Linked DNA regions of Homo sapiens: all the other regions are linked to region 2. Evidence: fine-mapped expression QTL. A gene starts in region 2. Each other region holds a variant in brackets. All regions are shown on one strand. Distances are between the middles of the regions. Region 1 overlaps DNAJC5 (DnaJ heat shock protein family (Hsp40) member C5). Region 2 holds the start of UCKL1 (uridine-cytidine kinase 1 like 1). Region 3 overlaps DNAJC5 (DnaJ heat shock protein family (Hsp40) member C5). Region 4 overlaps DNAJC5 (DnaJ heat shock protein family (Hsp40) member C5).

What was found. PIP is the estimated chance that this variant, and not a neighbour inherited with it, causes the effect.
Region 1: its variant is fine-mapped to the expression of UCKL1 in monocytes (TOPMed, PIP above 0.99).
Region 3: its variant is fine-mapped to the expression of UCKL1 in whole blood (TOPMed, PIP above 0.99).
Region 4: its variant is fine-mapped to the expression of UCKL1 in whole blood (TOPMed, PIP above 0.99).

Annotation. Positions count from the first base shown.
Region 1 is chr20:63,906,236-63,913,705 of GRCh38, reverse strand. All of the region lies in intron 1 of DNAJC5 (DnaJ heat shock protein family (Hsp40) member C5), which reads right to left. It also overlaps the pseudogene RNU1-134P. Among named protein-coding and RNA genes, the nearest start is that of MIR941-1, 9.5 kb to the left of the region's middle. RefSeq lists enhancers at 929-1,429, 2,851-3,350. The variant C/T (reference allele first, on the strand shown) is at 3,869.
Region 2 is chr20:63,951,756-63,958,758 of GRCh38, reverse strand. UCKL1 (uridine-cytidine kinase 1 like 1) reads left to right here and starts at 2,343. Exons shown (of 15, transcript NM_017859.4): 1 at 2,343-2,499. The coding sequence starts at 2,387. ZNF512B (zinc finger protein 512B) reads left to right here. Exons shown (of 17, transcript NM_020713.3): 17 at 1-2,055. It overlaps UCKL1-AS1 (UCKL1 antisense RNA 1), which reads right to left and starts at 5,375. Exons shown (of 1, transcript NR_027287.2): 1 at 1,774-5,375. RefSeq lists enhancers at 384-1,269, 1,270-2,157, 2,187-2,246 and silencers at 1,577-1,786, 2,377-2,746, 2,847-2,896, 2,947-3,256.
Region 3 is chr20:63,922,885-63,930,354 of GRCh38, reverse strand. It overlaps DNAJC5 (DnaJ heat shock protein family (Hsp40) member C5), which reads right to left. Exons shown (of 5, transcript NM_025219.3): 2 at 1,903-2,020; 3 at 830-1,043. The coding sequence starts at 2,009. Among named protein-coding and RNA genes, the nearest start is that of MIR941-5, 6.8 kb to the right of the region's middle. The variant A/G (reference allele first, on the strand shown) is at 3,449.
Region 4 is chr20:63,930,742-63,938,211 of GRCh38, reverse strand. It overlaps DNAJC5 (DnaJ heat shock protein family (Hsp40) member C5), which reads right to left. Exons shown (of 5, transcript NM_025219.3): 4 at 7,190-7,361; 5 at 2,201-6,747. The coding sequence ends at 6,644. Among named protein-coding and RNA genes, the nearest start is that of MIR1914, 7.1 kb to the left of the region's middle. RefSeq lists an enhancer at 5,475-5,976. The variant G/A (reference allele first, on the strand shown) is at 5,341.

The DNA of each region.
Region 1 (7,470 bases), 45 kb after region 2:
GCTACTTGGGAGGCTGAGGCAGGAGAATCACTTGAACCCAGGAGGTGGAGGTTGCAGTGAGCCAAGATGGCACCACTGCACTCCAGCTTGGGCAACAAAGAGACCCTGTCTCAACAATAAATAAAAAATAAAAATACAAAAATCAGCCAGGTATGGTAGTGCACGCCTATAGTCCCAGCTACTCAGAAGACTGAGGCGGGAGAATCACTTGAACCCAGGAGGCAGAGGCTGCAGTGAGCTGAGACCGCACCACTGCACTCCAGCCTGGGCAACAGAGCGAGACTCTGTCTCACTAAAAAAAAAAAAAGAAAGAAAAAAAACAGGCTGTTAGGAACCCTGGACCCTGGGGCAAGGGGAACAACTCTAGAAAGAACAGATGACGTCTGAGGAGAAGCGGGAGGAGAGGGAAGGAGACAACAGGTGCTGCGGACTGCAGGGAGTGGGGCAAAGACAAGTCACCTAAGGAAACAAAGGAAACACGGAGGAACTACCAAGAGCGACAGTCACACTGGGATGGGGAAGACACAGCAGGGGCTGGGTCAGCAAACGGGCATGACACAGCACAGGGAACTGCAAAGAAGGCACCAGCAAACACCTCTGGGAGAGACAGTGCAGACAGGGAGATGGAGACGGGGCAGGGAACTACCTCTTTGCTCTAGATGCCCTTGGCTCATTCTATACAAAAAAAAAAAATTGCTAAAAATACAAATACGAAAAATAAAATACAACTGGCATTTCTTTTATCCTGCTGGGGAATCTTAATTTAAAATCTGTGATGAACCATGTAAAAACTGACTGCCGGCCGGGCACGGTGGCCAAACCTGTCATCCCAGCACTTTGGGAGGCCAAGGTGGCCAGATCACGAGGTCAGGAGATCAAGACCATCCTGGCCAACATGGTGAAACCCCGTCTCAACTAAAAAATACAAAAATTAGCTGGACGTGGTGGCAGGCGCCTGTAGTCCCAGCTACTCGTGAGGCTGAGTCACAAGAATCGCTTGAACCCGGGAGTTGGAGGTTGCAGTGAGCTGAGATCACGCCACTGCACTCCAGCCTGCAGCCTGGGCGACAGAGCGAGACTCCGTCTCAAAAACAAACAAACAAAAACCTGACTGCCAAAGGATACTCAGACAGGTAGGTCAGGCAAGGGAAGGACTGACAATCAGAGCATGCTAGGGACAGGGACTTGGAACACAGTTAAAAGGGTAAAAGCCCCACAGTTTGAATGTGTATTTCTGGATTTTTATTTGGAATAGATATTATCTATTCCAAAAAAAACCCAATTAACTCTGTAAATACATTTGAAGAAATTATAAACAAGAGTCAACAAAGCAAGCTAGAGAAAAGACGCTGTGTGCCACATCACAGGTGTCCCTCACCTTTACTCTTTTTTTTTTTTTTTTGGAGACCGATTCTCACTCTGTCGCCCACGCTGGAGTGCAGTAGTGCACTTTCAGCTCACTGCAACCTCCGCCTCCCGGGTTCAAGCGATTCTCCTGCCTCAGCTTCCCGAGTAGCTGGGATCACAGGCATCTGCCGCCATGCCCAGATAATTTTTGTATTGTTAGCAGAGATGAGGTTTTGCTATATTGGCCAGGTTGGACTCAAACTCCCGGCCTCAAGTGATCCGCCCACCTCAGCCTCCCAAAGTGATGGGATTACAGATATGAGCCAGTGTGCTAGGCCTTTCCTCCTAACTTAAAATGAATTTCAAATGTAAAGACTTTCCAGCCGGCCATGGCAGTTCATGCCTGTAATCCCAACACTTTGGAAGGCTGAGGTGGGGAGACTGCTTGAACCTAGAAGTTTGATCATTCTGGGCAACATGGTGAAACCCCATCTCTATTAAAAAAAAAAATACAAAAACTCGCCAGGCGTGATGGTGCACACCTGTGGTCCCAGTTACTCAGGTGGTTGGGATGGGAGGATCACTCGAGCCCAGGAGGTCAAGGCTGCAGGGAGCCGAGATCGCGCCACCGCACTCCAGCCTGATTGACAGAGCAAGACCCTGTCTCAAAAAAAAAAAAGAATTCCTAAAGTCCCTGGAAACACAGAAATCCCCAAAAGATTTCAGCTTTCCTCCTTAATTCTAAGAATAAAAAGCAACAGTGATGCTGAGCTTAACGCAACACGAGAACAGCAAGAGAAAATAAAACTGCTTCCACGACCATCACCAAGCATCCAAGTACGAGAGGAAGTGAATCTGAGCTGGAGCCATGGCAGCGCCCGGCCGAGCCAGGGAGGAGCAGACAGGCAGGGCAGCTGGCCCTTTTCACACAGTAACAAGCCCCATGCTCGCTCACACACAGAGTGCCACAGAAAACGAACGCCTGCCCTCGTGAGTCACAAAGTTAATGTCAAGAAGCAACAAGACCAGCGGCCACACCTGAGGAAGGATCAACTGCCTCAACCCATAGCTGCCACCCTGCCCAGAACCACGGTTTCCTGAAACTATAAAACCATTCCAAAGGTATGATTAGCTACAGAGAAACAAAACCAAACCCCACATGCTGAAGCCCTTTTAATTCACAGACTCATCTACTGCCCCAGGTCCTAATAGAGCATTCAGTGAATGTTTGCTGCATTAATTTTATTGGTATTGACTTGGGTCTGGAAACCTAATAAAGATTTTTTTTCTTGTAAACTGATGCTTAGAATACAGTAATTCAAAAAGAAAAGCAGATCAGAAGTTGAACAAAATAACTCCAGATATACATTTGAATACAAAGAATTGAACAGGCCGGGCATGGTGGCTCAGGCCTATAATCCCAGTACTTTGGGAGGCCAAGGCAGGCGGATCATGAGGTCAGGAGATAGACCAGCCTGGCCAACATGGTGAACCCCCGTCTCTACTAAAAATACAAAAATTAGCCGGGTGTGGTGGCGGGCACCTGTAGTCCCAGCTACTTGGGAGGCTGAGGCAGGAGAATCGCTTGAACCTGGGAGGCAGAGGTTGCACTGAGCCGAGATCATACCATGGCACTCCAGCCTGGGCGACAGAGTCAGACTCTGTCTCAATTAAAAAAAAAAAAAAACATTCTCAAAACCCTATTACTTGGAGAGCAGGTTATCCAACACGACACTCATGCCCTCCTGGGCATCGGGCACCCAGGTACCTCGGGCCTCGCCCTCCCAGTCCCAAGCGCACATCACTTTTTTTTTTCGAGAGGGAGTCTCGCTCTGTTGCCCAGGCTGGAGTGCAGTGGCGCGATCTCCACTCACTGCAAGCTCTGCCTCCCAGGTTCACGCCATTCTCCTGCCTCAGCCTCCCGAGTAGCTGGGACTACAGGCACTCGCAACCATGCCCAGCTAATTTTTGTATTTTTAGTAGAGATGGGGTTTCACCGTGTTAGCCAGGATGGTCTCCATCTCCTGACCTTGTGATCTGCCCACCCCCGCCTCCCAAAGTGCTGGGACCACAGGCGTGAGCCACCGCGCCCGGCCAGCGCACATCACTTTCGATGGTGCAAACAGCAGACAAAAAGTCCAGGTGACACCAATGAGGCCACAGGTTATGACACCTGGGTAGCGACTATTCAATCAAGGTTTGAACCTCTCCATACAAAGGGGGCCTAGAACAAGCAAGCACCCCCAGGAACAGAACGAGTCTGAAGACACGAGTGGTCTTCCGTTACCGCAGCACTGCTGGTCAAATCACTCAGGTCTGTGCAACACTAGAGAAGAAAGCTCCTAAAGCAGAATCGTTACTACAACCAAAAATATTCCAGAAAACCTTAACACAGTCCCAAATATGAAAGACAAGTGTTCTTCATAAGATCAGTAACCACGAGGTCATGCTGCTTGCTGGTCTTCTACCCTCACAATACTAAATCCGCAGGATTCTGGTCTGGTGCACGCCCTGGCCCAGG[C/T]GGGCCTCTGCTGCCCCCCGCAGGCTCTCCTGAGGATCCCCAGCCAGATGAGTCTGGACATACTTCCTATCACGGAAGAAAAGGCATAAAACCAGCAATCGATTCAGTAGAAATCTACTCTCACGGGGAAGACTTTTTTCTTTCTTTTTCTTTCTTTGAGACGGAGTCTTGCTCTGTCGCCCAGGCTGGAGTGCAGTGGCACAATCTCGGCTCACTGCAGCCTCTGCCTCCCAGGCTCAAGTGATTCTCCTGCCTCAGCCTCCAGAGTAGCTGGGACTACGGCACGCATCACTGCTCCCGGCTAATTTTTTGTTGTTGTTCTTGTTGTTGTTTTTGAGACGGAATCTCGCTCTGTCGCCCAGGCTGCAGTGCAGTGGCGCCATCTCGGCTCACTGCAAGCTCCGCCTCCCTGGTTCACGCCATTCTCCTGCCTCAGCCTCCCGAGTAGCTGGGACTACAGGCGCCCGCCACCACGCCCGGCTAATTTTTTTTTTTTTATTTTTAGTAGAGACGGGGTTTCACTGTGTTAGCCAGGATGTATCGATCTCCTGACCTTGGGATCCGCCCGCCTCGGCCTCCCAATTTTCACCATGTTGGCCAGGCTGGTCTCAAACTCCTGACCTCAGGTGATCCACCCACCTCGGCTTCCCAAAGTGCTGGGATGACAGGCGTGAGCCACCACGCCCGACTGATTTTTGTATTTTTATTTTTTTGGGCGGGGGGGACAGTGTGAACACAGTCCCTCCACTACCACAAATTACGCAGTCAAGTTTCCCACATTTGGGGAAAACGCAGGGCTCAGCACATCCGGAGTGCAATGGCTAAGCCTTGCCCTGGGAAAACCACCTTCGCGATCATGGTATCTCCCCTGCCGGGTAAGTATGATTTTTGTATTTTTAATAGAGATGGGGGGGTTTCACCATGTTGGCCAGGCTGGTCTCGAACTCCAGACTTCAAGTGATCCGCCTGCCTCAGCCTCCCAAAGTGCTTGAATTACAGGCCTGAGCCACTGCGCCTAGCCTCTTTTCTTTTCTTTTTGAGATGGGGTCTCACTCTGTCACCCAGGCTGGGGTGCAATGGTGGGACCACAGCTCCCTATAGCCTGGAAATCCTGAGCTGAAGCTCTCCTCCCACTTCAAGCAGCTGGGACCACAGGCACGTGCCTGCACTGTGCCAGGCTAGAACTTTATCTGGATATAATAATCACAACATTCAAATCCTCAACTTCACATAACACAAATTCATAAAAATACCTATGACCACAATCCTACTTGCAGTATCATATCTACTTAGTGACCTTTGCCCTGTTCATTCCGTGACCAATCAAACGGCACACCCACCCTGGCTGCGGCTCCACCCCACTGTACAGTGGACTGACAGGATGCTTCCACTGAGCAGACCACAGAGCAGAAGCTCAAGACACAGAGAGTGGATCCGCCACAGTTCATAAAATGCTACAGATGGCATCTGGGTATTTCCAGCACTTCCAGCGGGAACCCGCTCTGAAACGTTAACTGATGGAAACGGCCCTGACTTTCCCACACTCACCCCCTGGCCTAGGACTGCTCTTAGAGAAATTCACCCTGGGGTGATGGCTGGCCACCACCTCCCATGCGTGGGGCTGTCCCTGGTGAAGCACATACATAGGGTTTCAGAGTGCCTCTGCAACTATGACGAAAGTCAAATCATTCCAGTGAGTCTAGTATGCAACCAAGTATAAGGTGCACCAATTTAACCCTAACAAGCCAACCGTAAAACATGCGAAATTTCAGGGCCAGGCGCAGTGGCTCACGCCTGTAATCCCAGCACTTCGGGAGGCCAAGGTGGGGGGATCACGAGCTCAGGAGTTCGAGACTAGCCTCGCCAACCTGGTGAAACCCCGACTCTACTAAAAATACAAAAATTAGCCAGGCGTGATGGTGCACATGCCCGTAGGCCCAGCTACTGGGGAAGCTGAGACAGGAGAATCACTTGAAGCCGGGAGGCAGAGGATGCAATGAGCCGAGATCGCGCCACTGCACTCCAGCCTGTCGACAGAGCGAGACTCCGTCTCAAAACAAACAAAAAACCCCTAAATTTCAGAGGTAGTTAAGTAGTAAAACACATGCATTCACCTCAAAATTGAGACAGTATGATCTGACAAAACTTGTGATATCTGCTTTGAGTTTTATCTACACAGCAGCTGCAGCTTAGGAAACACTTACCACGTGCCTGCCATCTACTGAACAGAGCCCTTCCTAAGAGGCCTGTGAGACGGGCCTGGTCAGGGGGTGGGAGGGTAGCTCTGGGGTCACCTGTCTGAGCTGCCATTGACAGGGACTCAGTGGCCAGGCAAGTTACTCAACACCTCCCCATGTCGATCTCCTCTTTGTCGAATGGGCATTAAACAGTCCAGCAAGGTATGTCTGGGAGCTGGCTTGAATAAAGCGGTCAGACCCTATGCCAGGCACACAGTTAATGTTAGCTATTATGATGATGATCTGTGCTTTTCGGCTAAGAAGACTGAGACTCAGGAAGGTGGAGTAACCTATTTGCAGTCACCGTGCTAAGGATCAGCAGGGCTGTAACTGAAATCAAAGTCAGCCTCCCAAGCACCGTACATCGTAACTGATTCTCAGCATCCATTTCACAAAAGGCAGTAATTCTTCTCTGTCCTGATCACAAATAACTTATTTTCTTGTACATCAAGCCTTTTCTGAATAAGGTACTATATGGACCACTGTCATTTATTTTATTTTATTTTATTTTAGAGACAGAGTCTCACTATATCACCCAGGTAGGAGTGCAGTGGCTCAATCACACCTCACGGCAGCCTTGACCTCCTGGACTCCTGCAACCCTCCGAAGTAGTTGGGACTACAGGTGTGCAACCACCACACTTGGATAATTTTTTATTTTTTGTAGAGGCAGGATCTCCCTAAGTTGCCCAGGCTAGGCAAACTCCTGAGCTCAAGTGATCCTCCCACCTTAGACTCCCAATGTGCTGGGATTACAGGTGCGAGCGATGGCACCCAGGCCACTGTCATATTTTAATTAATTAATTAATTTTTTTTGAGACAGAGTCTCGATCACTCACCCAGGCTGGAGTGCAGTGGCGCGATCTCGGCTCACTGCAAGCTCCACCTCCCAGGTTCACGCCATTCTCCTGCCTCAGCCTCCCGAGTAGCTGGGACTATATACAGGCGCCCACCATCACACCCGGCTTTTTTTGTATTTTTAGTAGAGACGGGGTTTCATCGTGTTAGCCAGGATGGTCTCGATCTCCTGACCTCATGATCTGCCCGTCTCGGCCTCCCAAAATGCTGGGATTACAGGCGTGAGCCAGCGTGCTCGGCTATTAATTTATTTATTAAGACAGAGTCTTTCTATTGCTCAAGCTGGAGTGCAGTGGAGCAATGTCGGCTCACTGCAACCTCCGCCTTCTGGGTTTAAGCAATTGTCCTGCCTCAGCCTCCTGAGTAGCTGGAATTACAGGTGCCTGCACCACACCTGGCTAATTTTCATATTTTTAGTAGAGATGGAAGGGGTTTCGCCATGTTGGCCAGGCTGGTCTCAAACTCCTGACCCCAAGTGATCCACCCGTCTTGGCCTCCCGAAGTGGTG
Region 2 (7,003 bases):
AAGTCACAGCAGGTTGATGGCAGCTCCAGAGCTGTCTTTGCCCCTTTGTGGCCCTGAGGACGGCTGGGTCTATAGGTAGGGCAGGGGTCAGGCAGGGAGTCCAGGGTGCCTGGAAGAGGTGGCCACAGCCTGTGGCTCCCTCCCTGGGGTCCTGCCTTCCAACCACGGCATTGCAGGGAGGATGAGGCTCAGAGGGGGTAGGTTTGGAGGGAGGCCATTTTCCAGGGTGGGTGGGAGTGGGCTGAGGGCTCGGCCCCACTGACCCTGGACGATGAGAATTTTGATGTTTGCCCGTGTGCGTGTGTCTCCTGGGTGTAGTGGATGCCAGTCTTGTTGCTGTGACAAGTAACAACCTTTTTTTTAAATTGTTTTTTATACAAACACTCGCAATCCGACATTTGGTGCTAAGGGTTTCCTGGTGCAGACGGTGGGCCTGGGGGCTGGGCTGGACCAGGGCGTGGGTCTCTGGGGTTGGGGTCCCTTGCTGCTCAGGGAGGCAGTACTGACTGGGCACTGCCTCTGCCCCCAGCACCCACCCTCCCCCATTCCCCAGGGAGAAGGGGCCCCACTGGGCTTGGCCTGCAGTAGTAGGGAGACAAGTTCCAGGAGCACTTTGGGGACTGGGGTTGCAGAACACTTCCTGTCTCTGGCTTCATCCTTGGGCCAGAAGGCTCCAACCCTCAGCAGCCCTTGCCAGATGTGCCAGGGAGTGGGTGTGGAGACCCGGACTCCCCCCACCCACGCACACCTCGGCCTGATGAGAGGATGGAGGCTGGGGCAGAGATGGGCGTGACCCAGCGTCAGAGGGTCGGGGGAGGCATTCCTTCCTGTGTCCCAGAGCTTCACTGGTGGAGCTGGAGGAGCCGGAGGTGGAGGGTGGGGTCTGGCAGCTGCTGCTGGGGCAGCCTCATGAGGGGAGGGGAGGGGAGGGGAGGGGAGCAGGCACTGGGCGGGGGCCTAGGTGCACTTTGTCCTTGCCACCAATGGCGGGAGGAGGGTGGACCTGAACACCTGCAGGGTGTGGTGCCTGCCCCAGCCTCTCAGGTACTTGGCCCTTGGGGAGAAGAGAAGAGGGTCTGGTTTTTGCTGGGGGTGAGTTTCCGGGACACTCCCAAAGCCCACAGATAATCCCTGGTGTGGGAAGAGGAGTCCTGGATACCTTGATGTTTAGCACTTTAACCCCCTTTGTCTTTAAGGTAGGCGTGGGGGCTACTGCCAGAAGTGGCTGTTGGGTCTGACCCCCTCCTTTCTGCCCTCCCTCTGCCACATGCTGGTCCGCAGAGCCCTCCTCCCAAGGGGTGGGGCCCTGGGTGGAGCTCAGCAGGGTCTGCCCACTCCCTACGCTGGCCCACATAGGCCTCCAGGAGCCCTCAGTGAGAGGGACCAGCATAGCTGACCCCCAGAGTGTGGTGGGCGCCGGCCCTGCCCGAGGCCCAGTCGGGGCCCTTTCTGCAGATCTACCTCTGGCTCAGCGCACGCCCCCTGCCCTGAGAACAGGAAAGGGCCCGGAAGGGCTGACTCACCGGGCCGACGCTCACACGAAAATGGGATGCACTTTATTTGCTGGTGCAAAGGCAGGTGAGGGTGCCTCCTGTGTGACCGTTGGCCCTCCTGCCTGGTGGCGCTGAAGGGAAGGAGCCAGTGAGCCTGACCCCGGGAGGGGCCGTCCCCGTGTGCCGCGTTTGGCGGGGCCCCAGGCGGCTCCCCCAGGCCCGGGTCTGGGGCCCCAGGCTTTCCCCTGCCTCGCGGCCGGGCGTCCCGTGCTTTGGGTTTCTTGGTTTGGGTTTTTTAATGCCAGTTCTCAGTACATAAGTGCATTTTGAAAGAGGTTCCAGCTATCACTTGTAACCATATATATATACATATATATTCTATCTACAAAGTGTTTATTTGCGAGATGTTTCAACGGTGAGTTCGGGCCCCGCCCGCCTTGTGACCATCTGTCCCCGGTCCTCGTCCCCGCCCCGCGCCCTGGTCCCGAGTGGCGTGGGGACGGGCCATCACTGTATGTATTAAAATGACTGTATCAAATAAATGTTTATTGATTTTTTTCCAGGGTTTTTGTGCGGCTCAGTTTGTGGTGAAAAACAGGGGGCGGGGCCCTCCAGGCACGTGGCGGAGGCTGCCGAACTACGGGTCCCCCATGCCCGCCGCGCGGCCTTGTGGGGCTTGTAGTCCGCGACGCGCGGCCTTGTGGGGCTTGTAGTCCGCGACGCGCGGCCTTGTGGGGCTTGTAGTCCGCGACGCGCGGCCTTGTGGGGCTTGTAGTCCGCGACGCGCGGCCTTGTGGGGCTTGTAGTCCGCGGTGGGCAAGAGAGGGACCCGCCAGCTCCCGGCGGCCCATGCGCGCCGCCCGGCCAGGCCCGCAAAGAGGCCTCCGAGCGCCATGGCTGCGCCCCCGGCCCGCGCGGACGCTGATCCTTCGCCCACGTCGCCACCTACGGCCCGAGACACACCAGGCCGGCAGGCTGAGAAAAGCGAGACCGCGTGCGAGGACCGGTAGGCGTGGGCCTCGCCTCCACTCCACTGGCGAGCGGGAAGGGGCTGCAGATCCGGCCGAGCTGGGCGGGTGGTCCGTCCCCGCCGCGAGCCCAAGTCCCCCACTCCCGGAGGCCAGGCGGCGGCGCCCCGTTCTCCCACGTGCCGGGTGGAACCCCGCGGGCTTGAAGCGGCCGGGAGGACGGACCTGGCCCAAGCCGGCAGGCTCCTCGGGGCTCGGGGAAGGAGTCCGGGTGCGCACCCCCAGCGTTGACCTTGGTCTCTGCCCCCGGTGGGTGGGGCCCTCGGCCTCGAGCGCCCGGCGGGCTGTGTGCCTGCTCGACTGTGCGAGTTGGTCTATGTTGTCGGCTCGGGGTGTGGCCCTGCCCGACCCGCGAGGCCAGGGCTTAGGATTTGGAGGTGCTGCGGCGCACGGTGCCTTCGGATTGCCTCGCACGCGCGTGGCACCTTCGAGCCTCTGCGGGGGCTTTGCAAGAGCATGAAGTGGGGAAGTTGTGGGGGTGCAGCGGGAGGAACCCGCCCCCACCCCGGTTCGTCACCCCGAGTGGCCCCTCTGGGAGCCGGGCCCTGCGCGGCGCCTTTGGGGCCGTGGCCGTCAGGGGGCGGTGGCCACGCAGTGCCCGGGGCTGCAAGAGGGCGCTCTGGGCGCTGCCCCTCCCTTCCGGGTCTGAAGTGTCCCTTGGGGAGCCCGCGGGGTCCCCAGGAAGGGGTTGTTCCCACTCAGGCGCCTCTTGCCTGGGTTCAGGCTGTGACTCCTGTCAGAAACGCTGTGAGCCAGGACTCCCTCAGAGATGGGCTGCGCTGGATGCCGCAGGGGGAAGGGTGTCCCGGCACAGGGTCGCTCCTCTCCAGGAGCTGCTGAGCAGAAAGAGCTTTCCCCTGGCCCTGCGTCCCTTCAGGTCCACACCCTCCCAGTGGGCAGTGACTAGGAACTTTGCATGGCTGGAGTCTAATAGGGCCTGAGTCTGTTCCTCTGCTGGTTCCAAAGAGGCGTTGTTTTTTTGTTTTGAGATGGAGTCTCACTCTGTCGCCCAGGCTGGAGTGCAGTGGCTCGATCTCGGCTCACTGCAACCTCCCTTTCCCGAGCTCAGTTCAAGCAATTCTCCTGCCTCAGCCTCCCGAGTAGCTGGAATTACAGGTGTGCGCCACCACGCCCGGCTAATTTTTTTTTGTATTTTTAGTAGAGAGGTATTTTGTCAGGTTGTCCAGGCTGGTCTCCAACTCCTGACCTCAGGTGATCTGCCCGCCTCGGCCTCCGTGGGATTACAGGCGTGAGCCACCGCGCCCAGCCACCAAAGAGGTTTTGATTTAACCCGAGGTGGGGCAGGCCAACGCTAGATAAGCACTGAGAGCTCTTGAGAAAGGCACTCCTGGATGACACAGGTTGGTGGCAGCAGCCATCTGGGCCTGCCCTGTGCACAGACGGTGGGCTGGGCACGGTGGCCCTCGCTGTGTCCCACGAGGCAGAGACTGTTGTTATCTTTCTTTGGTGTGGTTACCAAGGGACAGGAGGGAAGCTCCAGGCAGTGAGGATAGATTGCAGCACCCTTCTCCAGGGGCCCCGGTCTGCCCTGGAACTGCCTCTTGTCTTAGGCACATTTCTTGCACTTTGTGTCCTGATGCTTGTGCCATCGAGGACTTCCTCTGCCCCAGCCTAGGGCTTTTCTCACTGTTCCCCGAGCGTGTCCCCAACGTTCCTGCGTCTGCCCCTCTTCAACCTCTGCTGCTGCCCTTAGTGTTCCAGAGCAGGCTCCAGCTTGGAGGTCTGTGCACGGGTGGAGGTCTGTCCCCAGGGCTGGGGTTCCTCCACCACCGTTCCAGTGCCTCCTGCCACATCCTCCCGGCAATCAGTCTGTCCATCTTGCCTGTTGTTTATTGTCTGCTTGCCACTCGTGACTCTGTCCTGGGCACCTGCCCCCAGAGCTGGCCCGTGCTGGTGCAGGAACAGGTCCTTTGTGGTGTTAGCAGTGACTCCTGGCTGCGGTTGAGATGGAGTCTGGGGCTGTGGAAGTGGGGAGCAGAGGGAGGCTGCCCATGATCTGTGCAGGGCAGGTCCTGCTGAGGGAAGGTTTCCTGAGTGGTGGGGTGGGCCAGGGCAAGCCCCCAACCCCCAGTGCTCATCCAGCCTGAGAAAGCAGCCCTAATGACTCTCCCTGAGTCAGTCCGGCACCAGTGGGGTCAGGCCTGCATTGGCTCCTGTGGGCTAGCTCCTCCCTGCTCCCTCCTCCCCCCAGCCTCATTTTAGTTATCCAGCAAACTTCCCTTAAACCTGACCTGTCAGGAGGTGCCGTGCTACAGGCACCCAGCAGGAAGGTCCGTGGGCGATGGTGACCCCAGGGGTGGTAGAACAGGCCTGAACCACAGCAAGGGAGTGCCCGAGCCTTCCTTTCTCCCTGTGTGCTCTCTCCCGTGGCTGTTTCCTCAGTGTCGGTTTCACATGCCCTGCGCTCCCTGCTGCTGGACGTTTGCTTCTGGTTTCCTTGGCATTGTGGATGGTTCGTGAGGGGCAGCCCTGCCTCCAGGTCTCCACACATGCCTGTGCTTATTTTTCTTCCTTTCTTTTTTTTTTGGAGATAGAGTCCTGGGCTGGAGTGCAATGGCACCATCTCGGCTCACTGCAACCTCCGCCTCCCGGGTTCAAGCAGTTCTCCTGCCTCAGCCTCCCGAGTAGCTGGGACTACAGGCGCCCGCCACCACGCCCAGCTAATTTTTTGTATTTTTAGTAGAGACGGGGTTTCACCATGTTGGCCAGGCTGGTCTTGAACTCCTGACCTCAGATGATCTGCCCGCTCAGCCTCTGAAAGTGCTGGGATTACAGGCGTGAGCCACTGCACCCGGCTGCCTGTGTGTATTTCTTTTGTTTTGTTTTGTTTTGTTTTTGAGATGGAGTTTTGCTCTTGTTGCCCAGGCTGGATTGCAGTGGCGCAATCTCAGCTCACAGCAACCTCTGCCTCCCGGGTTCAAGCAATTCTCCTGCCTCAGCCTCCCAAGTAGCTGGGATTACAGGCATGTGCCACTACGCCCGGCTAATTTTGTGTTTTTAGTAGAGACAGGGTTTCTCCATGTTGGTCAGGCTGGTCTCAAACGCCCAACCTCAGGTGATCCACCTGCCTTGGCCTCCCAAAGTGCTGGGATTACAGGCATGTGCCACCGTGCCCAGCTAATTTTGTATTTCTAGTAGAGATAAGGTTTCTCCACGTTGAGGCTGGTCTCAAACTCCGACCTTGGGTGATCCGCCCGCCTCGGCCTCCCACAGTGCTGGGATGACAGGCGTGAGCCACCGCGCCCGGCCACCTGTGCCTATTTCTTGACGATGACATCAGTTATGGGGCCTGATCACCGATGAGGCATCTGCCTTGGACTTTATGAGCTGACCCACCTGTAATGAACCTGCTGTTAGTCCTTGAGGAGGAAACTGAGGCAAGCTGTGGCTCCGTGGAGGGGACTGAGCCACATTCGACTGTGCTGTGGCCCAGAGTAGGATGGCTGAAGGTGAGGGAAGGGCAAGGGGTGCCCTGAAGTGACTGAGGCAGCCTCCAGCACCACGGGCCTCAGACAGCCCCACCTGCAAGGAGGAAGCCTTAGGCAGAAGGTGCTCTGGGCAGCGCTTACCCCAGCGCGGCATCAGCACCTGTGGGTGGCGTGGGAATGGGAGTTCTCTGGACCGGCCCAGCTCAGGAAGTTAGAACCTGGGAGGAACACCAGTGAATAGGACCAGGGCAGGCTACCCCTCCCCACCGTGAGCGGCCCCTCCCTGCCGTGGGCTGCTGTGGCCGAGAGCAGCCCCGTGGAGGGGCATGTTGGGGACCACGTGGCCTGCAGCGAGGCGACGTGATTCCAGGGTGGGGCCTGGTGGTTCCATTCACAGCTGCGTGCCTGGGCTCCTCCGTCCCTCGCCTGGCCAGCACAGTGCTGGCTTCCCCAGGCCTGTAGCCTTGCCTCTTGGCCGGCTAGGGCAGCCAGGGTGCATGCCCATGCCAGGCAAGACCAGTCTGCGTCCACTCTGCTGTTCAGACAGCCCAGCCAGTGGCATGGCCCCCAGGAGCCCGGACTCTGCGCCCCTGCTCAGGACAGCCTCCGCCTCCCCGACCCTGGGCTGTCTCCTGCCCACTTCCCAAGTGAGGGATGTAGCCGCCTCCTGGGAGCAGAATGAGGAGAGGAAGCACCTGTGGACACAGACAGATGGGCCGGTCCTGCCTCTGAGGCAGCTCCCAGGAGTGGCCTACTATTGAGGAGTATGACCTCCATGTGGAGTCTTCCCTTTTCCCTGAGCTTCTGGCAGCCCCTGCCTCAGTACTAGAAGCTCCAAGAGAAACCCATGGTAGGAGGAAGCTGACACCCATGGCTGACCTGTCTGCCCCTGGGAGAGAGCTTAGGGCTGCCAGGACTTCTCTGTGCACATCCTTGACTGACTCTGCGGAGGGTGGGGCCGAAACCCTGTTTCTGTGGGCGGGGAGGTGGCTGTGTCCCCTGTGCCCTGCTGAGCCCTGGGCGGGGAGGTGGC
Region 3 (7,470 bases), 29 kb after region 2:
AAAGCAGCCTCCAGGCTGGGCACAGTGGTTCACGCCTCAACTCCTGCAGTTCTGGAGCTGAAGTGGGAGGATCACTTGAACCCAGGAATTCAAAGTTAAAGTGAGCCAGGATCTCACCACAGCACTCCAGTCTGGGCAACAGAGCGAGACTCTGTCTAACATTAACTAAATAAAAAGTACTTTATAAGGATTCTAGTGAGGAGGCCGACCAGTCAAAGCCAAATACAGGCTTCTCACAAATGCCATGCAGTGATTCCAACCCTCTGGCCTCATATATGACATTTGGAACAAAACGAGGAAACGAAGAAATGCGGATGTAACATCGAGGCTTATTTCCTCCTGTCTCACGAAGGACTGGGAGCCATTTACAGAAGAAACCCTGGCGGCTCCGCACGGCTCTTCCCTGGGACAATCTGTACGCTATGGCTTGTTCCAGGCAGGACACCAAGCCAGTGACAGAGCTTCGCCCATCACACAGGTGAGGAGAAAGGCTCCATATGCCCAGAAGCCTTTTCTCAGGAGTGTAGAGTTGCTGGCATCAACGCATGGGCTCTGCAATGCTGGGAACCCTGCAGGCGTGGAGTGACCCGGGTGCCCACATGGCAGGAGAGACTCGGGTGCCCGCACGGCAGGAGTGACTCGGGCGCCCGCACGGCAGGAGTGACTCGGGTGCCCGCACGGCAGGAGAGACTCGGGTGCCCGCACGGCAGGAGAGACTCGGGTGCCCGCACGGCAGGAGTGACTCGGGTGCCCGCACGGCAGGAGAGACTCGGGTGCCCGCACGGCAGGAGTGACTCGGGTGCCCGCACGGCAGGCAGCTCGCCCTCACCTTGGCCCACCAGCTGGACAGCACGAAGTAGGTGTTCACGTTCTCTTCCCCAAACTGCTCGGCCACGTAGAGACCCAGCGAGCCGTACTTGTCGTAGATGTTCCTTTTTGTGGCGTCCGTGAGGATGGCGTGCGCGTTGTTGATCTCCTTAAACTTGTCCGCGGCCTCCGGGTTGTCGGGGTTCTTGTCGGGGTGATATTTCAAGGCAAGCTTCCTGCAAACCAAAACCATGTCCTGGCTCTACCCTGGACTTTGTTCCACCCGCACCCGCCGCCGCGTCCATCCCACCCGCACGCACTGCCGGGTGCAGTGGAAGGCAGGTCCACCCAGGCCACCTCACTGTCCGACTCTCCAGGGCTGCAGGGGCCAGGGACAAAAGCAAGCTCCGCGGTTGTTTCAGGTAAACCTCCTCACCCTGACCCAGCCTCAGAGGAGGGAGCCCCAAGGGCTGTGAGTGCCACGGCACATCTAAGTTCAGCGGCACCAAGGCCAGCCCTGGTGTCCCAGCCGCTAACTGCACAAGTGCCAAGTGAACGGTAAGCACGGCGGGGCGTAATGATGGCACTTTAAGAAGTGTTTTATGAACTACACGATGCTAGCACACGAGAGGAGGACTATCTGAATTGTCTGGATTAGTGATGGTGTCTCTTACAGGTTACTCAATGAAACTGTACCCAAGAGTGCAGTTCTTCAAGCTCAATCAGAAGGCCACAACAGAGTGAGGGGTCTCTGTCATCACTGTGCTAAAACAAGGAGACCACAGGACCATGCCAGCGCTCTGCGGCTCCTGTGAGGCCTCAAACAGGTTCAGACCCTGACTCCCTATGGAACTGTGGACAGTGTGTCAGTTTCTACTAAGTGCTATTTTTTGTTGGCAAGAGAACATGAATACCATAACTTTAAGCTATAAGGAGCACATTACACATACAAAGGTGTTACCGAGCTGTGACCAGTTCAACGCTGAGTCGGCCAGGATAAAGTATGTGCAATGGTTCTTGGTAAAATGCAGACTAAACCACACGGGGCATGTGTGTCTTCCTGGGGGGATGTGGGGGCCACACTTGTCCACTTACCGATAGGACTTTTTAATGTCATCTGAGGTTGCGTTCTTGTCCAACCCAAGGACGTGGTACAATGACTCCCCAGAGGTAGACAGTGAGCGCTGTCTCTGGTCTGCCATGTTAGGCTATTCTAGAAGAAAAAATAAAAAGAAAGTATCACAAAGTATAGATGAAAGTACCAAGGGCAGAGCTGATGGACTTTATTCCATAAGACCGTTCAAAGCAAAAGAATCCAACACTGCCTTGTGGAGTTTGCCACGTGCACAGACAGACGCCATGGCATGGAGAAGTGTGAGACGGCAGAATACGGCCACCCCAAGAGATCCTGAAGAACTGCAGCTGTGTACTGTGGGCCGGCACAGGGGCTCACACCTGTAGTCCCAGCATTTTGGGAGGCTGAGGCGGGAGGACCGCTTGAGCCCAGGAGTTTGAGGCTGCAGTGAGCTATGATCACTCCACTGCACTGGAGCCCAGGAGACAGGGACCCTGTTCCTTAAAAACAAATATATAAATAAACAAAATAAATTAATTAATTAAAATAAACATGCATATTGTAATCCTTACAGCAACCTCTGCATAAAAAATGCAAAGAGGTATAAGCTAAAAAGTTACAAGAAAAATGAAAAAGTAACTCAACACAGGAAACAAATAGAAAATTAGTTGGAAGATCTAAATCCAAACATATCAACAATTAAATTCAATGTTAGTGGACAAAAAACTCCAATTAAAGTAAGGGACTGACAGAATGGATAAAAATGCAAGACCCAACTTTAATTTTAATACTTTCTCAGAAATCGACAGAACAGACCAAAAATCAGGAAAAACATCGATGTTCTGAACAACACTATCAACCACCATGACCTGATCTTCACAGAACACCCAACATCTAGAGAACACACAGTTTCTTTCTTTCTTTTTTGGGGGGGGGGACAGTTTTGCTCTTGTTGCCCAGGCTGGAGTGCAATGGCACGATCTCGGCTCACCACAACCTCCGCCTCCCCGGTTCAAGCAATGCTCCTGCCTCAGCCTCACACAGGAGTAGCTGGGATTACAGGCATGTGCCACCACACCCAGCTAATTTTGGTATTTTTAGTAGAGATGGGGTTTCTCCATGTTGGCCAGGCTGGTCTTGAATTCCCGACCTCAGGCTGAACTCCCGACCTCAGGTGATCCGCCTGCCTCAGCCTCCCACAGTGCTGGGGTTATAGGTGTGAGCCACAGCGCCTGGCAAATACACATTGTTTCTACATTGTTTCTAACTAATCAACCACCATGACGTGACAGTCACAGAACACCCAACATCTAGAGAACACACATTGTTTTTAACTGAATGCTGTACACTAAGACAAGCCACATGTTAGGGCTTCAAGCTGGTTTCAATAAACGTAATGGAATGAGGTCACACACAGCACTATCCCTGACTTAGCTACAAACTGGAAACCCAGGAGGAAGATACTCTTGATATTCAACAACACACCTCCGGCTAACATGTAGCTCAAAGAAGAAATCCCAGGGGAACTTAGAAAATGTTTTGAATTGAATAATAAATACAGTGTAC[A/G]TGACGGTTAATTTCATGTCTCCTTTGCTGCATCGTGGGGCACCCAGATGAAACATGACTTCAGGGTGTGCCTGGGAGGGTGTTTCTTGGTAAGAGCAGCACCTGAGCTGGGGGCTCCATGAAGCCAACTGCGCTGCCCTGTGCAGGTGAGTGTCGTCCCAGTCCACGGGGGTCCCGAATAGAAAGGGGTGGGAGGAGGAGTTGGCCTGGGTTTTCCTTCTCGCCTGCCAGCCTGAGCGGGGCCACGTGTCTCCTCCTGTCCTTGGACTGTTATTATCCCACTGCTTTCCTCAATCTTCAGCAAATGGCAGAGCATGAGATTCCGTCTCCATAATGACGTGGGCCAATTCCTCATAACAAATCTCCTTTAGAAAGAGACACAGATAATGGCAACGTTCCTCTGCAGAATGCTGACTAGTACAACACGTTAATCAAGGCCTAAGGCTCCGCCTCAGGAAGCTACAAAGTAACAGGATAAACCCAACATAAATGCAAGCAAGGAAATCATAAGGAACAGAAATCCATGAAAACAAACAGATAACTTCAACAAAGCCAAAAGAGTTGGTTCTTTGAGCAACATGAGGAAAGACATCACTACAGATCCTAGAGGCGTGAAAAGGATAAAATACGAACAACTTCATGCCAAGAAATTAGAAAAATTAGATGAAATGGACAAATATCTTGAAAATTACAATTTACCAAGACTGACATGAAATAGAAAATCTGAATAGGCCTGCATCTGTTAATAAAGTTATATTTGTAATAAAAAATCCCCAGAAGGCCAGGCGCCGTGGCTCACGCCTGTAATCCCAGCACTTTGGGAGGCCAAGGCGGGCAGATCACGAGATCAGGAGATTGAGACCATCCTGGCTAACACAGTGAAACCCCATCTCTAATAAAAATACAAAAAAATTAGCCGGAAGTGGTGGCAGGCACCTGTAGTCCCAGCTACTCGGGAGGCTGAGGCAGGAGAATGACGTTAACCCGGAAGGCGGAGCTTGCAGTGAGCAGAGATCGCACCACTGCACTCCAGCCTGGGCGACACAGCGAGACTCCGTCTCAAAAAAAAAAAAAAAAAAAACCAGATAAAATTCCAGGCCCAGATTTTTTTTTTAACCAAATATTTAGGAAATGACATCAATATGGGGTTTTGAGATAGTCTCGCTTTGTTGCCCAGGCTGGAGTGCGGTGACGCGATCTCGGTGATACTGGCAGGAGGCAGCTGAATGCCAGGCAGATGGGGCGGGTTCCCGGTGAAACCCACCTCCAAGCCAAAGACAGTTTAAAGCCTGACAGCTGAGCTACAAGTTAAATCCTCAGACTAGATGAAGAACTTGCCTTCCTGTTTGCCACACTTTCCTCTGATTGATCCCCATCCTTCACCTATTTTACACATACCTACCCTTTCCTAATTTTTATTTTTGAGGTGGAGTCTCGCTCTGTTTGCCCAGGCTGGAGTGCAGTGGTGTGACCTCAGTTCACTGCAATCTCTGCCTCCCGGGTTCAAGCGATTCTTCTGCTTCAGCCTCCCAAGTCACTGGGACTACAGGCACGCGAACCACGCCCAGGTAATTTTTGTATTTTTAGTAGAGATGGGGTTTCACCACATTGACCAGGATGGTCTTGAACTCCTGACCTTGTGATCCGTCTGCCTCAGCCTCCTAAAGTGCTGGGATTACAGGCGTGAGCCACCGTGCCCGGCCTCTTATAATTGGTTTTCTACACTGTCATGCCCACTTTAACCTTTTCTGCATACTCACAAACCCATCAGCAAGCTCTGCAAGCACTCCGCATCCTGAGTCCATAAAAAGCCCCAGACCCAGCCACACAGGCGGACTTTCCTGCCTTCAGGTAGGGGAACCACCCCTGCATCCCCTGGTCCGCTGAAAGCTGTTTCACTGCTCAATAAAGTTCTTCTCCGCCCTCCTCACCCTTCAATGTCCAGTGTATCCTTGATCTTGAGTGCGGTACATGAGCTCGGGAATGGCCGAACACAGTACAAGCTATAACACAGGTGAGTTGGGGCACGCCAGTGTGGCCAAGCAGGGCCCAGGTGGGGCATCACTGGCCAGGGGTCCCCGGCTTGCAAAGTGACCGAGAAGAAAAATCCTAAGTCATCAACTCACTGCAACCTCCGCCTCCCAGGCTCAACCCATTCCCATGCCGCAGGCACGGGACTACAGGCACGCACCACTGCACCCAGCTAATTTTTGTATTTTTAGAGACAGGGTTTTGCCATGTTGTCCAGGCTGGTCACGGACTCCTGGCCTCAGTCAATCCCCCCCTCGGCCTCCCAAAGTGCTGCGATTACAGGCATGAGCCACCGTGCCCGGTTTTTTGTTTTTGTTTTTAAGTTAAATAGGCATGGTGGCTCATGTCTGTGGTCCTAGTGACACAGGAGGTTGAGATAAGAGGATGGCTGAGCCCAGAAGCTCGAGGCTGCAGTGAGCCATGATCGTGCCACCACACTGTAGCCTGGGTGACACAGTGAGACCTTGTTTCAAAAAAAGAAAAAGAAATAACAAGACCTATGAAATCTGTACGTTGAAAACCACAAATTGCTAAGATACTAAAGATAAGAAAAAGATTCCTCATGTTCACGGATTAGAAGCCTCGATATAAAGAAGTCAGTTCTCCCCAAACTGATCTGTAGACTTGACAGAAGCCTAACCCTAATCCAAGAGGATTTTTTTTTGCAGAAACTGATACTGATTTTTTTAAATGTATAAGGAAATGTAGCAGACAGATTAGCCACAGCAACATTAATAAAAAGAACAAAAGTTAGAGAATTTACCCTATTGATTTCAAGACATATACTATATATCTACAGTAATCAAGACCATCTGGTACTGAGGAAAAGACACACACACAACAGCAGAATCGAGTTCAGATAGATTCATACTGAAAGGCACAGAAGGGGAGAAAATATTTACATTATGTACGTATAAAAAACAATTCACAAGTGGAATAAAGAACTCTTACACAAGTCAATTACTAAGGCAAAAAACTCCATTTTTAAAAACGGCCAGGTCGTTCTGGCTCAAGAGCGCAGAATGACTTGGAGGCAGTGAGAGTGTAGGAACGGATGGACTTGGCAGATTTTCTTTTCATTCTTACCATTTCAGGATAGAATCCAAAATCACTCAACACATAAAGCTGAGAAAATGTTAACTCATTCTTTCTTTTCCCCGCCTGACTTTATTGCCCGGGCTGGAGTGCAGTGGTCACATTTCAGCTCACTGCAACCTTGACCTCCTGGGCTCAGCTGATCCCCCCACCTCAGCCTCCTGAGTAGCTGGGACTACAGGTGTGCAATACCACGCCCAGCTATTTTTTAAAATTTTTATAGAGTCAGGATCTTGTTGGTCTCAAACTCCCAGACTCAAGCAATCCGCCTGCTACAGCCTCCCAAAGTGCTGGGATCACAGGTGTGAGCCACCCTACCCAGCCTAATTTTTTTTTTTAGAAACAAGGTTTTTCTCTGTTGCCCAGGCTGGAGTGCAGTGGTGCGATCTTGGCTCACTGCAGCCTTGAAATCCTGGACTCAAGAAAGCCTCCCTTCTCAGCATCCCAAGCAGCTAAGACTACAGGAATGTGCCACCATGCCCAGCTAACTTTAAAATTTTCTATAGAGACACGGTCTGGCTTTGTTGCCCAGGCTGGTCTCAAGTGATCCTCCTGCCTCAGCCTCCCAAAGTGCCAGGATTATAGGTGCAAGCCACTGCTCCTCACCAAAATGTGACTTATTCTTTTTTTTTTCTTTTTTGAGACAGAGTCTCACTCTGTTGCCCAGGCTGGAGTGCAGTGGTGCAATCTCAGCTCACTGCAACCTCCACCTTCCAGGCTCAAGCGATTCTCCTGCCGTAGCCTCCTGAATAGCTGGGACTACAGGCACGTACCACCACGCCTGGCTAATTTTTGTATTTTTAGTAGAGATTGGGTTTTGCCATGTTGGCTAGGCTGGTCTGGAACTCCTGACCTCAGGTGAGCCACCCGCCTCAGCCTCCCAAAGTGCTGGGGAT
Region 4 (7,470 bases), 21 kb after region 2:
TAAAAATACAAAAAATTAGCTGGGCGTGGTGGCGCGCCTTTAGTCCCAGCTACTCGGGAGGCTGAGGTACAAGAATCGCTTGAACGCAGGAGGCGGAAGCTGCAGTGAACCGAGATCGCGCCATTGCACACCAGCCTGGATGACAGAGCAAGACTCTGTCTCAAAGGAAAAAGAAAAAAAAAACTGAACTTAATAAACGTGGATTCTACTTAATTAAGAAAATTCAAAGACCAAGCCAGAAAAAAACGTCTGACAACGCTAAGGCTAGAAGGGGCAGCGAGAAGATGGGGAGCCTCTTTGCAGGGCAGTGTGGGGCCACCAGTCAAGGGAAGGCTTCCAGATCCCGCTCCCAGCGATCCCACCCGAGACAACTCAGCAGCGACATTCAGGCAGCTTTGTTTCCACAGTGAGAAACTAAAAACCTGTGGTCAGTTTGCCCAGGACCGACTGTGATTAATTCGTGACTGTTCTGTACAGAAGCTAAAATGAACCAGACCTAATATAACCACACGGCTTGATTTCTTAACTACTACTGTATCAAATGAAAAACTTAGGCCTGGTGCAGTGGCTCACGCCTGTAATCCCAGCACCCTGGGAGGCCGAGGCGGGCGGATTACCTGAGGTCCGGAGTTCAAGATCAGGCTGGCCAACATGGTGAAACCCCGTCTACTAAATACAAAAAGTTAGCCAGGCGTGGTGGCACATGCCTGTAATCCCAGCTACTCAGGAGGCTGAGGCACAAGAATCACTTCAACCCAGGAGATGAAGGTTGTAGTGAGCCGAGATTGTGCCACTGCACTCCAGCCTGGGCCACAAAGACTCCGTCTCAAAAACAAAAACAGGCCGGGCGCGGTGGCTCATGCCTGTAATCCCAGCACTTTGGGAGGCCGAGGTGGGCAGATCACAAGGTCAGGAGATCCGAGACCATCCTGGCTAACACGGTGAAACCCCATCTCCACTAAAAATACAAAAAATTAGCCAGGCGTGGTGGCGGGCGCCTGTAGTCCCAGCTACTCGGGAGGGTGAGGCATGCGTTTTCCTAAATGGCGTGAACCCAGGAGGCGGAGGTTGCAGTGAGCCAAGATCGCGCCACTGCACTCCAGCCTGGGTGACAGAGCGAGACTCCATCTCAAAAAAAAAAAAAACAAACAAACTCATAAGGCAGGTGGTGTACTCAGTACTATGGTGTAGTACAATTTATGTAAAAAGGTATAAACCAATAGTACGTCTTACTGGACCTGACAGTGGTAGACAGAGTTTAAAGCTATGGAAGCAGAGGATGGAAATGGGGAGAGACGCAAAACGGTCTTGGATGCTGCCATTTTTTTAAAATGGAAAATCTGACTCAAATTTTTTTTTTTTTTTGAGACGGAGTCTCGCTCTCCCACCCAGGCTGGAGAGCGGTGGCACGATCTCGGTGCGTTGCAACCTCCACCTCCCGGGTTCTAGCGATTCTCCTGCCTAAGCCTCTTGAGTAGCTGGGACTACAGGCACGCACCACCACGCTCAGCTAATTTTTTTTGTATTTTCAGTAAAGACGGGGTTTCACCATGTTGGCCAGGATGGTCTCAGATCTCCTGACCTCATGATCCACCCACCTCGGCCTCCCAAAGTGCTGGGGATTACAAGCGTGAGCCACCATGCCTGGCCCTTCCTTCGTTTTTCTTAAGTCAGAATAGAGGATTTCAAGATGTTTGTTACGTTATTCTGAGTTTTTGTTAGTTTGTTGACAGGATCTCCCTCTGTCACCCAGGCTGGAGTTCGGTGGTGTGACCACAGCTCACTGTAGCGTGGACTTCCCATGCTCAAGTGATTTCCCTCCTGACGAGCTGGGACCTCAGGCACGGCTACACCCAGATAATTTTAAACTCTTTTTTGTAGAGACACGATCTCACTGTTGCCCAGGTTGGTCTTGAACTCCTGGGCTCAAAGCAATCCTCCCACACTGGCCTCCCAAAGTGCTGGGATTATAGGCATGAGCCACCACGCTTGGCCTCTTTGCTCCAGTCTTGGTATTTAGAAAACGGAGGTGAAAACACAATCAAGAGGAGGGGGCATTTATCCACATCTGGACCAGGCAGGAGGGAAGCAAGGTTCCAGCCGCAAGGGGTGTGGAGGGCTGAGATCAGCTGCTGCTCTCCAAAACCAGGGATCTGCGGGACTAGCGAGTAAGACATACGTGGGGTCCGCAGTGAAAACATTTATTTTACAACAGTAATCTTTATTTTAGGCCAACATTCAGACATACAAGACGGAGATCACCATGCGGAACCAGCCTGGCCCTTAGATGTGTGTGCTCGAGCCAGGATCAGCCGGAGTCTGACAGCGCCTGCACCCCAACACGGTCGGATTCCAGGACGCCAGTGACAAAACCAGTGCATGGACAAGCAGCTTCCATGCGTGTGCATTTGATTTTTAAAAACAATACATATTTCAGTGTTAACTTCCCCCCTCACCTGGCTTGAAACATTTTCCCCATTTTCCAGGGAAACAAACTCTACCAAAAGGTGCCGCCTGCAGGACCCCGGGCCCAGCCCCTTCTGGAGGTGGTGCTGTGTGGACTCCTCTGGGGCGGACCCGGGGCCAGCACAGGGCCCCTTCCCAGGCCGCCCTTCAGATGCAGCTTTGCCACTGACCGTATCTGCTGCTCAGAAAATCAGCTTTCATGTTTCAAGGCAGGGAAGGGCTTCCAGTCCCCTCCTCGATTTCACACCGGGACACACACCTGGGTCAGGTGAGCATGACACACAGCCCCCAGGATGGGCACCCCACCCTGCAGAGCAGAGGCCAATGCTGGTGGGGGCCGTGGCAGTGCCCTGGGCACACACCCTCTGCACACAGTGGGCTCAGCGCTTCCTTCTGTGCACCTGCTGGGAAAGCCTCCTGCAGGTCCCTGCCCGACTCCCAAGAAACCAGAGGCCATTTCAGAGCCACCTTTAATTGTACTTGTCACTTCACCAGGGGACAGCAGCATGAATGACACTCCTGCTGCGTGATATATACATATACACATATGTACACACACGGACACACCACAGCCCACACTCACAGCATGTGACGACGCAAACTGTTGCTGGTAAGGACAGTAAAAATGTAGCTTTTGCCAATTCCACAGGAGAATGATTTACAACCAAAATAACAGACACAGGCCAGTCCTGCGCCACAGGGGTTCACAGCTCTGAATACTGGGAAAGGGTGAGATCAGTCATTTCGTGTCCCCTCACGAGATGTCCCCACAGTAGGATGCACTGAGTCAGAGCTAAGGGAGGGTGGACAAGCGCTGAACTCTGCCCGCAGCACCCGGACCCTCCAGTGGCAGCCTGCATGCTGGTGCCCTTCCTTGCAGCACAAGCCTCGCCCGGAACAGAACGCCTGAGAGCAGCCTCGACGGCGTGAGGCTCCAGGGCCTCTTCTGGATGGCAGCAGCCGACGTGAAGACGAAGCTTTTCCTGCTGGGCACGTGTGCATGCCAGTTCCTTTTTCTAGTAGGTCCCCACTGGGTGCTGGCTGCACTAACAACATAGAGAACTAGGAAAGTTCACAAACACTGAGCAGTAATATCTAAAGCAGTTTAAAAATAAAGCCAAAAGGAAGACAAAAAAATCCCACGTCACTGAGTGGAGACAAATCTATACAGCAGCAGCTGCCGTGAAAGGGCCCGCAGGGCCGCTCCTACGCCTCCTGCAGGTCGGAAGCAGTCAGTGCTGCCCGGACCCCCTCGTGAACCGGACGGGCCTCAAAGCACGACCCCAGAGGGCCCCTGGCAGCCCCCAGCAGCGGCGTCCAAAGGGACATTCTGTGCCCATGGCCACACTTGCTCACAGCATTGTCTGCGGCCCGAGAGTGAGGAGTCGGGGTCCCGTCACTGCCACCAGCAAAAGCAGGCAGGGGTGCTGGGGGCGTCCTGATCTGTTAGCACGTGGACAGGGAGGCGCGGAAGCTGCCCCAGGACTCACCACCTCTTTTAATTATAGGGAAACAGTCCACTCAAGAAAGAGAGAAATAAAACCCGGGAGGATCTTTTTCCTTAAATTAAGACAAAGCCTTAAAGCCAACAGGGCAGAGCGCTGAAAACGGTTCTGCTTCTAGGTCAGGCAGGGGGAGGAACTCCAGGCCCCGAGTGTCTGGGCTTCCCGGGGGTCGTCTAATCACAATCACCACCGTGAGAATGGCCACAACCATGATTTATTAGGTTTTACAGATTCTGCAGGGGACTGGGTTCCACAAACCTCCAGACCTGCTCCTCTTTCCCACCCTACCCCACCTTCCGCAGGGAGCTGCATGGTTCTACAAAATGGTCCACTGGACTCTGTAACTGAAAAGCCACCTGGCAAGGGGCCCACTCTGATGGGTACCGAAGGGCCTTGGAGTGTTCTAGCCACAGAGCTGTGTGCAGGCCCAACAGAGGGCCTGGTGGGGCTGAGCTAGGGCCCCCGATGGGCAGCTTTCTACCTTAGGTCCAAGCTTAGAACCTGGCTCTTGGCCAGTCTGCGGAAAAATAACTCACGTCCTAAGCTACATCTACAAAAATTGCAAAGGCTGAGTACAGCCAGCATCTCAGGCTGAACTTGCTGCTGCACGAAGCGGCACGGAGGCACCCCACTGTCTCGCCACCTCACCTTTCAGGATGGGCCAAACAATGAATTTCTTATTCTTTTAGGAGAGGTCTGATTTTGATAAATTATTTCTAATTTAATATCACAGTGCATATCTCTCCTCTTGTCAAAGGTCTTCGTGATCATTTTAGTGAGAAGAAACAAAGAAAAGTGGGACAAACAAAGCTGCCCAGGACCTAGTGCTGGCAGCCGGCTCATGGTCCACATGCGGATCTGCAGTAGGGGTCAGCTGGGGGCCCTCAACCAGCACCCTGTTCCTAAGCACGTCCAGATGTATCCTCATATCCATGTCCCTTTTGGCAGCTTCCTGGTCAACCTGAACCTACCCTTCTGCACAGCCTCGGGTGGCTGCTGAGGGCAATGAGTGAGCTGGGGCCACGGGTCAGCAGGCAGGCAGGGAAGGGGGCTTCAGGAGGCTCATCTGGTTGGTCCGAGCCAGAGCCATCACACACAGCCTCCTCCTCAGCTTTATCTCTACAGGGACCTCTGCAACTCTGCAGCGGCCACCATGGACATTCTGCAGAAACCAGGCCCACTGGAGTCTGCAGCATGGCGCCAAAGGCAGGCCCAGCACATCCCATGAGCTACGGAGTGCGGGCAGCTCTGAGCCCTCAGCCAGCACAGGGACATCAGACCCGTTCCCCCTGCTCCCCTATGCAGGGCGCCACCCACAAGGTCTAGGACACGCAAGAGACTGACTTCCCATGGTCCACATGTGGATTCC[G/A]TAGTCTGGCTGCTGGCCTCCCAAGGGACCCACAATGGTCCACGTGTGGATTCCGTGGCCTGGCTGCCGGCCTCCCAGGGACCCACAATGGTCCACGTGTGGATTCTGTGGCCTGGCTGCCGGCCTCCCAGGGACCCAACCCTCCTGAGCCAGAGGGTCCCTCTGGTCCAGTCAGTCCTTCCTCCAGGGACCTAACGAATCTGGCTCTGCCTGAATCATCGATGACGGGGCAAAGGCGAGTGGGGCAGATGGGAGCTCTGGCAAACACAGGAGGAGGGGTCGTGGGAGAGCCCCCGTCCCCAGTAGCTGGGTGCTCACACATGCACAATCTACTCTCTGACTGTGGCTCATTGGGCTGGTCCTATCATCTGTGGTTCTAAAGGTCCAAAAAGGGCTATGGAAAGGACAGGTGTGCTGGAAGGAATGTGGAGAACGACCTCAAGATGGGAGGGGGGAGACTGGCCCCATCAATCCAGCTCAGAGCCCGGGAAAAGTGCAGGAACACAGACAAATAACCCCAACACGGCGAAGGACACACCTCCGAGAACCAGAACGGCAGCGTCCACACGACGAGACGACCAGGCGAGAAACACCGCGGAGGACACGGTGTCAACCTCGGAAGGGGCCTCCTATGCTTTCCACACCAAATTCTCCCACGGGAGAAACCCTGCCACAAGGCCCAGGAAACCACAGACCCCCAAGCCAACCATGCCCAGCACAGACACCAAGGAATGACAGTGACGCCGGTGACGCCAGGAGGACGCGGCCCCGCCTCTCTTCTGGCAGGTGAGATCAGAGTCCTACTGCAGCCTCAAGGCTGGGAGCACAGAGTGTGGACCAGACCCCGAGGCCAAGACGGTAACACAGCTCTGCCAGGCAGCACCTGCCTCCGGCCCCTCAAGCACAGGTAGGAAAGGGGCAGCCCCCCTTCTCCTCGCCCACCTGACCGGCTGCAGTCACCCCTCACTGGACCAACCTGACCGACAGCCCTGAGGCAGCTCCACCGTGCAGTTCACGCGGTCATGCCGCGGAATGTCCACAACACAGACATGGAACAGAACCCCATACATGCTATTAAAAAAGGGAAAAAAACAGAAGACCGTAGCTACACTGCTTTAAATACTGCATGCTACGCACTTCGTGGGTCAAGGGTCGACGCTGGGTGGGCGTGGAGGCAGGAGGGGCCCCAGCAAGGCCAGGGCAGGCAGGAGGCTGCCTTCCCATCTCTGTGACTACAGTTCATGATTCTAAGGTTGGCGTGGCCAGGCGCCGGCTCCTCCTCTGACCACAGCTCCTCCTGGATTTAGTTGAACCCGTCAGTGTGGTAGCTGGGGTGGGAGTCGGCTGTGAGCTGGGTGGTCTCGGTGGCGGATGCCGGCTGTATGACGATCGGCGTGTCTGTGGCCTCTGAAAAGCAAGCACACAGGGCACTGCACGAGGGCCACAGCCTGGCGCGCACCCAACGCTGGTCCTGTGGAGCGACTTTCGGGCACCTGGACAAACTCTCCACCGGGAGAGGCTACTCGCTGACCTCCACCCCACACGGCTTTCCTCCGTCGCCTTGGGTCACCGCCAGCCCTCGGCCCTCAGCCCCGCCCCAACTGCCTGCCGCCCTGCCCCGCCTCGCAGTCCCTGGGATCTACGGCTACCGCAGGTCACGGCGGGGACAGCTCTATGCGCCTGCTTTACCTCAGGGTCCACGTTCACACCTCAACAGTCCCAGCTGCCACCACAAACACTCGCGGCACAGTGTCAGTGCCCTCCTGTTTGACAAGACAGGTTGACACCATTCAGGGCCCATTCTGGCTCTGCCCCACACACACACACGGGCCCTGGGGCGGGCACTCACCCCTCTCGTCAGACTGCAGCTGTGCCTCCAGATCCTCGGGGGACACGTAGAACTCCGTCTCCTCGCCTTCAGGCGCCTTGGGCTTACACTTCCCGCAGCAGCAGTTGAAGCAGCAGCACAGACAGCAGCAGCAGTAGCAGCACGTGAGGAGGCCGCAGAAGACAAACAGGGCCTGGGGGGAGAAGAAGGTGGTGTTGCATGGCCTCCGAGGCCCCTGGAGAGGGAGGCGCAGGACTCCCAAATGCCCTCAGCAGAAGGCAGGGGGTGCGTTCCAGGTGGGG